Linked DNA regions of Homo sapiens: region 1 is linked to region 2. Evidence: fine-mapped expression QTL. A gene starts in region 2. The other region holds a variant in brackets. All regions are shown on one strand. Distances are between the middles of the regions. Region 1 has its middle 32 kb from the start of PRR15. Region 2 holds the start of WIPF3 (WAS/WASL interacting protein family member 3).

Evidence for each region. PIP is the estimated chance that this variant, and not a neighbour inherited with it, causes the effect.
Region 1: its variant is fine-mapped to the expression of WIPF3 in lung (TOPMed, PIP 0.98).

What each region holds. Positions count from the first base shown.
Region 1 is chr7:29,593,465-29,598,845 of GRCh38, reverse strand. No RefSeq gene overlaps it. Among named protein-coding and RNA genes, the nearest start is that of PRR15, 32 kb to the right of the region's middle. The variant T/C (reference allele first, on the strand shown) is at 2,413.
Region 2 is chr7:29,803,728-29,809,108 of GRCh38, reverse strand. It overlaps WIPF3 (WAS/WASL interacting protein family member 3), which reads right to left and starts at 2,601. Exons shown (of 9, transcript NM_001080529.3): 1 at 2,431-2,601. RefSeq lists an enhancer at 1,956-2,865.

The DNA of each region.
Region 1 (5,381 bases), 210 kb after region 2:
ATGCCCCTCCCTCTTCCCATGGATTCACGCCAAGTGACACGGAAAGCCACCGCCAGCTGCTGAGAAGGGCAGGACTGTAGGCTCACATTCTTCCCGACGCCAGAAAGGTAGAGGAGGTTTGGAGTTTTTTATTTCCTTCTACTTTAGAAAATGAAGCTTAGCATTTTCTCATTTCAACCATATCGAAAAGAAATAGGGGCTTTGAGGGGCTCAAGAAAAGGTGCAGTTCTAAGAATCTGCAAGTAAGAAGAATGGACACTTTACAGCTGTCTAACCACCCAAAGCATGCAGGGGTATCTAAATGTTCAACCTGTTAGGTAGGGATAACGTGCTCTTGTTACGTTTTAGAAATGACACTGTGGCTGCAAACAGTCACAACTGCCAACAACACTGGCCCAAACTTATTTGGTCATCAGAGAAATGCCACATGAATGCATATATGCATATATGTATACATATAGTACTTGTGTTCAGTCAATCCTCCTTATTCATGGAGTCCATATTTGCAAATTTACTGACTTATTAAAATTTATTCCAATTCCATACTTAGGATACTTTGGTAGTCACAGCCATATGCAGAGTAGTGAAAAATTCAAATCACCTCACGGGCACATAGGTTCCCAGGCAAGGTTATGCCTTCTTGTTTCAGCTCTCATACTATAAACAAGTGTCCTTTTCTGCTATTTAGTGCCATGTTACTCCCATTTTGTGCTTTTTGTAGTATTTTGCTGTTTCAAATGGCCCCCAAGCATAGTGCTGAAGTGCCAGCTAGCATTCCTAAGAACAAGAAGGTTATGATATACCCTACAGAGAAAATCCATGTTAGATAAGCTTCATTCAAGCATGTGTTATAGTTAGTGCTGTTGGCCATGAGTTCAATGTTAATGAATCAATAATACATATTAAGTATGGTGACTTTAAACAGAAACACACATAAAACAAAGTTATGTACTGTTCAGTTGACAAACGTTGTGACAAGAGGCACATCGGGGCTGGGTGCTGTGGCTTATGCCTGTAATCCCAGCACTTTGAGAGGCCAAGGCAGGTGGATCACCTGAGGTCAGGAGTTCAAGACCAGCCTGGCCAACATGGCGAAACCCCCTCTACTAAAAAATACAAAAATTAGATGAGCATGGTGGCGGGCACCTATAATCCCAGCTACTGGGGAGGCCGAGGCAGGGAGAATTGCTTGAACCCAGGAAGCGGAGGTTGCAGTGAGCCAAGATTGCGCCATTGCACTCCAGCCTGGGTAACAGAATGGGACTCCATCTTAAAAAAAAAAAAAAAAAAAAAGAGGCACACAGGAACCTAACCTCTATTTCCCCTGGGAGCAATGGTTCAGTATTTACTATTAAGTGAATCAGTGAATTAGTAATTCAGTAAAGTGGTGACTTTAAAAAACATAACTACTGTGACTAACAAGAACCAACTGTATGTTTATATGTATAGTATGAGTGTGTATACATATATGTGTGTGTATTTGTGCAATGCCTTATCTAATTCACTGAGGCCCTGAAAACTTAATTCTATATTATTCAGTGATAAATGATACCTGGAGAAAGCTATTATCATTCAATATCAAGTGCATTTTTCTTCATTAGAGCTTAAAGTTCCTATAATTGATCTTTTCTTCACTAGCAATATTTTTGAACAGTAATAATTTGATTGCATCAACATGAAAAATGTTACTTAACTAATTCTTGGAAGAGTGGGAGTATGTAGGCTAGAATAGTTTGTGAATGTTACTGCAAAATATTTACTTGGAATACGACTACATTCCAAGCAACATTTTCACTCCAGAAATCTGTCTAAGAGTTTGTTATCTAGTTAATAAATGGACTTTTGAACATCATGTCCTGTCCAAATCTCCTCGGTCACGTACCTTTAAGCAACTTAGCAATACCATTAAACACCAACTCAAACTGACTGAGTCAGACCCTCTGAAAGACTAATGCTACCTTTGCTAGGGAGGCCAAACATGAATCCTCCCAAACCTACTCCCTTCCCTGCTACCATGTGAGGGTGGAACAAGACACTTGTTAGTTTCATGTAATCTTGTTGTAGCAGTTCCAGCAGCTTTCTGGCATCTTCCTATTCTCCATGTTTGCCCAACTCCACAGTATCAACATGTCTTGAATCTGGGATAGAAATCAACTATGAAGAAGCAATAAAAAATAATACAAAGTTGTCATTTCTTATTTGATCATCTTCATAATTCCATTATTTTATAAAAAGCAGCATGTGTTGTCTAAAGAACCCTTGACTGGGAAACGGTATCATTTTCATCTATGATGTTAATTAACTGTTACTAGGCAAATGACTCAAGTAGGCCTGGATATTCTTATCTGTAAAGGTTGAGGTTGGATAGAGTATAATTTTAAAAAAATATTTTTATTTCAATAGCTTTAGGGG[T/C]ACAAGTGGTTTTTTATTAGATGGATAAGTTGTATAGTGGTGAAGTTTGGGCTTTTAGTGTACTCATCACCCAAACAGTATGTAGTATACCCAACAGGTGATTTTTTTTAAATCCCTAACTCCCTCTCATCCTCCCCACTTCTGAGTCTTCAGTGTATCTATCACTCTGTCTGCCTTTGCATACCCATAGCTTAGCTCCCACTTATAAGTGAGAACATGAGGTATTTGGTTTTCCAGTCCTTAGTTATTTCACTTAGGATTATGGCCTCCAGTTCCATCCAAGTTGTTGCAAAAGACATTATTTTTTCTTTCTCATGGCTGAGTAGTATTCCATGGTGTACACACACACACACACACACACACACACACACGTATATACACACATGCTACATTTTCTTTATGCCAAATTATTCTTTAGAGTCCATTTCAGGTGAAAAAATTCTAGATTCTATGCTTCTACCTGGACTACTTGGGATAATCTTGGGATTTTCCCAGGTCCTCTTGACATTCAGAAGACTTCTAATATGCTGTAGACCATGCAAAATTTCTAAAACAATATAATACACATCTTATTGGATTTGGCAATAGTCTCATCCAGTACTGTTTGGCTGAAGAATATGTTAGTTTTTCTCCACGTCATCCTTAGACATCTTAGGTATTGATAATCTGTTAATTCATGCATTCAGTGAATATCATTGAGCCCCTATTATGGTTTAGGCACTTCACAAAAAAGACAAGGTCCCTATCCTTAAGCAACACCAAGATATGTGGGTGCGCTGAGTTCGATAATAATTTGGTACTCAAAGTAGATGAATAGTTTGATATCCTGTGAAATTATAGTCTTTAATATGCTCGACATTTTTTAAAAAAGAGAAAGATCAGCACCAAAGAGAAATTTTTTTATGTAACTCAAAGATATAGAGCTAAGTTTTATTTTATCAGCTATATGAGGAATTGTGTGTGACAGTCTGAGTTAATTGACATCGTATTTTTTGGATTTATCCTAGAATTGGTTTTAGAGATCATTGAAAACTCCCTCCCTGTCAAGCAGCTACCCCTGGCCTCTCCCTGTTTGCCTGTCCTGGTGGTTATAGCCTTTTATTTTCCCTTTCAGTAATATTCAAGCAAAAGATATCAGAAAGTATTTATTAAATAGCTTACTATGATAATTTTTGCCCTTGGTGCCTAAATATTGATTTTATTCTTTTTGCAATTTGTATAAGCCATTCAACACCTTTTTTTTTTTCTCCCTCCCCCGAGACGGAGTTTTGCTCTTGTGGCCCAGGCTGGAGTATGATGGCGGATCTCAGCTCATTGCAACCTCCGCCTCCTGAGTTCAGGCGATTCTCCTGCCTCAGCCTCCGGAGTAGCTGGGATTAAAGGCGCCCGCCACCACGCCCATCTAGTTTTTGCGTTTTTAGCATAGACGGGGTTTCACCATGTTGGTCAGGCTGGTCTCGAACTCCTGACCTCAGGTGATCCATCTGCCCCAGCCTCCCAGAGTGCTGGGATCACAGGCGTGAGCCACCAACGACAGGCCAACACTTTAATGATAAAAGATGAAAATAAGCTATTAGCTTAATTAACTTTGTGATATTTCTGTGTTCCAACTTAGCTAAAGTCATTTCATATCTGTTATATTCTGTCCTGACTAAATTTTGTTTTTTGGAGAGGGCAAAATCTTCTAGACACATAATCTGCTATATAAAGAATTATGTAATTCCTTTCATTAGATTTTATACCATTTCCTATATAAATCAATGTTTGACAAAGCAAATCATATTTTCCCATTAGCTTACATTATAATGGTAAAGCATTTTTGTTTACTTATACATTGATCTACAATTTGGGGCCTCATTATCCTCATTTTGGAGCCTTTTCCATCATTTATCCTCTGCACCTGTAAACGCTATGATAATTCCAAATCTAAGACTATTTTTGGTGAATCTTTTTTGAGTTAAAGAGTGTTTTGGTAATAAAAAATAATTTCTGTCCCTAAGTGATCTGTTTTGTACATTCAGATTTTTCTTACAGTTTGTTAATTTAGGGGCATTCCTATAAATATTATGGATTTAATAAGTAATGTTTCCTGGGAGTCTTGAAATATAGAAGTTATGATTTTACAATAAAAATATTTTAACCATTTAGGATGCCAGGTGTGGAAGAACAAGACCCCACATCTGCATAATCTTGCTTCTTGGAATCAAGTAAAATAAAAATTTCCTTAATATTCAACACGTTATTCTTTTCTTACAAAATAAAATAAATACATTTTGTATAGAAATAGTGCTCCTTATAACTTATTTTTGTCATTTAGTTTGCTGACCTATGGAGTTCACTGTGAACCCAAAATCTACAATCCCTCCTTAGATCTACCTAAACAGAAGGAAAATTAATATCTCCTTCCAGGTTTTAATCCCCCAAAGAAAGAAAATTATTTGTCTAAAGTATATTTCTAGAACTAGTCTAAAGAAAGTAAGATTTTGCTAAACAATTTGGCTGATTTTTTCTGTCTCAGAAAGTTAAGATTTTAAATCAAAAGTCACTTAGTGTGATCTTGCATTATCTTAAAACTCAATTATAATTAACTTGCTTTTCTAAAGAAGAGAGAGCTAGTCTTAAAATGAGACCTTTGCCATTTAATGCTGTGTTCAAATGTAAGTTAGAGAATTAGAAAAGATAAGGATCCCTATTGCAAGCTATTCATCAACTAAGAATGTATCTGTTCTTGAGATTGTTAAGGTGTGGTTGAAGTTAAATGATTTGCTCACAGAAAGAAATTTTTAAATACATATGGTAATCTTTGACCTTTACTATACTGAGTCAACTGAGTACAAGAGTAACTTCCCTTCACTTTTTTTTTTCTCCTCAAGGTAAGCATCAGATAATCTGGGAAGAAAATATCATTCAGAAGTTCATGTATACATGTGGATGGTAAATATATTATATTTTTGCTTTTTTTACTTGTT
Region 2 (5,381 bases):
TCAAATATTTCTGCACCAAAGTTCATATATATTAAATATTTATAACACATTTGCTAGAAAACACATTTCCTTCCTTTTGCTGAGTTATTTGTGTAGGTTTCTTTTTTAAAAACTTCAACATTAATAAACATATTTATAAATTCTAGAATGTAAAAAAGTTGACTGCCATCCTGGTGAAAATTCTATGTTTCCCTCTACTGTTAATCACATTTTGTTTTCTCGGATCTTTCCTAGGTTATATTCTTTATTCTTTGTGTATGTGTTGGAGTGACTGCAAACTCGCAACCTGTACTATATGGTTTCTGAACAATAAGTCTCCTAAAAAGAGCGTTGCCAGGCTAGACCAGCTGGCTTTCCCCTGTTCTTATAACTGTATGTTCTTAGACACACACACACACACACACACACACACACACACTTCCTCCATTCCTTCTGCTGCTGGGTAACTGCAATCTGTGACACAATGTCACACTCACAATTACGTGAAAACAGAGACTCCTAAAGGAACAAAAAGGGGGCAATGGCAGGAAGCCAGCCTACAAGTGTCTGTCACCCTGACCGCTCTGCCCCGATTCAGGTGGCCACAAATTGCCTGTTGAAGGTTGCCTGTCTAGAATTTGAAGTCTGTGTGCCCAGGCTGTTACCCTGAGTAAGTAATTTAACCTCTGTGACCTTTTATTTTCTCATCTGTAAAAAAGGCACAATAACAATATCTCTGTTAAAGAATTGCTGCGAATCACAGGAGGTGATGCACATAAAGGCATCTGCAGTGTATGTTTCATTTCCAGTTACTTCTTAACTTTCTTTTGCCCCTCCTCGCCACTTCTTTTCTGATTTGGTTTTTGTGGTTTTTAAATGTATCTTTGAAATGCATTAGCTGGAAAACTGCAGCAATCTGTGTGTTACCACAATGAGTGGACTTTAGCATCACATTTTTATTTACTTTTTCACTGAGGTAGAATTTACGTTAAGTGCACAAGTCTCAAGGGTATAACTTCAGTAATTCTTAGGTCAAGGTGAGAAGCATTTCTAGCATCCCAGAAGCCTCCCTCATGTCCTGTCCAGGTATTGACCTGGAGTTTATCTCCTTGCAAGGCCCAAAAACAACCTCTCCTCTGACCTCTTTCGTAATGATAAAGTTAAAAAAAATTGAAGGGAGGCAGGAGTCCCAGTGATAACTATTAATGCTGGGCACAAGAAGTGCACTCCCAGTCCTCCCTGTGAAGTGAGAAAAGATTCTGGAAAGGAGGAGGCGGAGGGGCACAAACCTTCTAAATCACACTGGTCATGCCAAACAAGGCCCTCATTTACAGCCAAGGACCCCAGGCACAGAGGCGAAGAGACAGCCTAACTTCCTGCTACAGAGTAACTTTCCTCCCCAATACAGCCAGTTACAAAGCGCCCTGAGTGTCAGGGATTGGCCACACTGTCCCAGGGCGCATGGAACCGCTCTCCTGGCCTTTCCCTGCAGAAACTTCTTTCCAGAGGGAGGCGCACACACGGTCCCCACGCCGCCCCGGCGCCCGCCACGGGCACACCCACGCGGCTGGCACGCCACCCTCCAAAGGCGCTGTTCCTGAGAGCCGGTGCCTGCCTGCCCACGGGGCCCGGGCGGCGCTCCTCCAGGTCCAGGGCGGCCGGGTGCCCGCCCTCCCCGCCACCTTCAGAGAGTGCGTGTCAGGGGCTGGGGGAAATCTGCTCTGCCACCTACCTACCCACCACCTAATCCTCCAAAGGACCCTAAACCCATTTGTGGCCAAATGTACATTGCTGGAGCACAGTCTGACTACTGACCCCAGGGGCTTGGAGATGAGCACGGGAGGGGTGTCCAGAGACCTGCGCTCTGTCCCCATGAGCTGTGTGACCTTGGACAAGTCACTTCACATCTCTGGAGTTGGCTTCCTCACTAGGGGGCTCCTTCTGTATTCCCCAAGCCACCTCCGGCTCTGCAATTTCCTAGCTCTCTTTTACTCCGCCCCAGCCCTTCCCGCGACAGCCCCCTCCCCAGCGAGACCCCAGCCTTTTGTTCCGGGGGCGAAGCGGAGAAGAGAGAGCGTCGCGAAGGACCAGGCCGAGGCGGCCTCGGTGCCAGGGGCTGCTCACCGGGGAGTCCAGTCCGGAGAAGTCACCAAGCAACCCCGTGGTGACCTCGCTCCCCACCCCGCGGTTTGTTTCCGCCCGGCCCGGCCCGGCCCGGCCGGGGCGGCGTGGCAGGGTGCGGGTGGGGGGCGTGAGCGCCGCGCGGCACGTCGACAACCTCCTGGGCCCGGGGCTGCAGCCCGGCGGGGGTTCCCCGGCCCTCCCACGCCCTCAGGATCTCTGTCCCGGGCCGGGCCACTCTGCTCCGGGACCGACCAGGGCGGCGGCCGCCACACCGCCCGTTCCTTCCACCCTCGGGCACCGACCCGCACCCGCGCGGGAAGCCGCTACCTGCAGGTGGCGGAGCCGGGGGCTGGACTGGACTCGAGCTCCGGCCGACGTCTCCGCCGCCGCCGCCTCCGGCTCCGGGCTCCGTCCCGCAGCGCCCGTGCTCCAAGCGGCGCCGCTACCGCCGAGCTGCGCTCGGTGCGCCCGGCTCGCTCCCCGGCCACCGGCTCTGGTGCTGCCGGGACGCGGAGGCGGGGCCGCCGCCCCCACCTGCTCGCAGGCTCCTGCCTGGGAGCCGCCGCCGCCCCGCGGCAGGGACACGGCCCCGGCGGGCGGGGTCGCTCTGGGACCCTGGAGGCGGGTCCCAAGTCGGCGGGCGCGCCTCCCGGGTACAGAGTCCCAAGTCTCAGCTGCGGAGAGACTGAGGCCTAAGGCTGGAATTCCCCAAATAGGAGCTGTTGCGCGGGCGGCACACGGCCCAGCACAGCTACTCTGGGGACACGCCACTCCTTGAATTTATTCCAAAATGTTGAGCCCTTACTAAGCTCCAGGCGGTGTCATAAGCGATGGGGACGAGAGAACAAGATTACCTCTTGCCCTCGTGGAGTTCACAGTCTAGAAAAGGAAAGCGACCAATGGGCGATTACAGCACAACCAAGAGGAGGCAGAGGCCTCCTGAGCCGGCTCCCAGAGGGAGCACCTGATCTAAACTTGGGGTGGGGAGTAGGTCAGGGAGGGCTTCTTGAGGAGCTGACGTCGACGAGAAAAACTGAAGACTGAGTGTGAATTAGCCAGGTGATGAGAGAATTATCCGGGTAGCCTGGGGAGGTAGATTGATGTCCCAGGTAGAGTCGAAGGGAGGAGAAAGCAGACTGAAAACTGAAATAGGGCCGGGCGCGGTGGCTCAAGCCTGGAATCCAAGGACTTTGGGAGGCCGAGGTGGACGGATCACTTGAGGTCAGGAGTTACTAGCCTGGCCAACATGGTGAAGCCCTGTCTCTACCAAAAAATACAAAAGTTAGCCGGGTGTGGTGGCGCTCTCTAGTCCTAGCTACTCGGGAGGCTGAGGTGGAAGGATCTCTTGAACCCAGGAGGCAAAAGTTGCAATGAACCACTGCACTCCAGCCTGGGCGATAGAGTGAGACCCTGTCTCAAAAAACCAAACCAAACCAAACAAAGAAACAAACAAAAACAAACCTGAAATAAGCTTGAAGAACGGAAAACCTTGCTTCTGTCACATTTCTTGTTCAGGCCCTTGGAGGATGCAGAAAGTTTGTGTCCGAGGCTGAATGCATTGCTGTAGGTGCTGAGATCATTGGGTGAGGATTCTGTATTGCCCATGTCCTGGGCATTCCTGCTAGTGGAGGAGCTAAGCGGGTACTCGTGGACTGTTCACTCAGCCTCGGTGTTTGAGTATCTGCCATGAGCCAGACACTCTGCAGGGCCTCAGGGCAAGGTGTCTAACTCTAAAGTTGCTGCTGGTCTGGAATAGAGGAGAAACCTGGCGCTCAGCGCTGTGCTGAGGCTTGTGTGAAATGTTGGGGACCCAGGTGAGGGAGCAGCCAATGCCAGCAGGGAAGATCTCACACGTGGATTGCAGCCTGTATTCAGGTTCAAGTTCTGTAGTGGCTGCTGTCAAAGTATGTTCCCCAAGCAGCCCTTAGCTGATCTCTTAATTACTCATGTTTGTAGCTGGGCAATGTGTCGAAAGCAAGGATTAATAATACACTTTTGATGTCTTTCACTCCAGTGTCGTCAAGAACATGGTTTTCTCTTTTGATTTAGGTGACGAAAGGTCTATGTGTAGTGAGTGGAAGCTGATGAGGCACTTGCTTTCCACCTGTTTGTCCTGAGTTCCTCTTGCCCTTTCCTCCTTTAGAATCATAATAGATGACCACAGGTATGGAACCTGAAGAACAGTTCTCCAACATAAAATTCATAAGCCCTCTTACATGGGTGATTGTTACTAAAACAAAAACAAAACCCAAAACCCCAAAACATGACCCAGCCACTCTCCTTCTCTGGACCTCCAGTGCTAAAGCTCACTAAATACATAACCACTAGTATTCTAATTCAAAAAGGAAGAAAAGTCAAACTATTAGAGAAGACATTGCCATGGGCCTAGAGAGTTCCCATCAGATCTCCTGAGCAGCCCAAGCATGAGCCAGTTGGATGGAAAGCCTGTTATTTATCTCAAGAGATGCTGGATTGGATCAAAGAATTTGTTTTTTAAAATGCCTGGTTGTAGGGATGGGGAGGTGGTGAGTGAGGAATCAATTTGGACATTTGGGGCTGAAAGCTTCAAGAGGCATTCCATTCAGGTGATCAGTGTTTTCTATCCATGTGAAGTAACAATACCATTAGCATCTTGTTCCTACGGACATTAGGGAGGGATTCATTTCCACCTAGCTCCACTAAGACAAATTGACTTCAAGAAGGCACTAGCTCTTCCTAGTAGATGGTACTTGTTCAGTGGCAGACACTGTGAATTGTCTTCCCAATTATCAGTCTATTCTCCACTTCTTCCTTAGTGACAGAACCCAGGATTATGATTGATCCAAGACGACCATGACAATCCCCTTCCTGATTTCCCAGTCTTTCTTACAGCTAAGGAAGTCATTGACCCAGTTCTAGCCAATGAGTTGAAAGAAGGGTCTGGTGGGGGAGCCTCTGAAAAATTTTTTCTGGTTCTGTCTTTCCTTTTCCCTCTTTTCTTTTTTCTTTTTTTTTTTTTAGACAGAGTTTTGCTCTTGCTGCCCAGGCTGGAGTACAATGGCACCATCTTGGCCCGCTGCAACCTCCGCCTACGGGGTTCAAGAGATTCTCCTGCCTCAGCCTCCTGAGTAGCTGGGATTACAGGCGCTTGCCACCATGCCCAGGTAATTTTTGTATTTTTAGTAGAGGCGGGGTTTCACCATGTTGGCCAGGCTGGTCTCGAACTCCTGACCTCAGGTGATCTGCCCACCTTGGCTTCCCAAAGTGTTGGGATTATAGGCGTGAGCCACCGCGCCCAG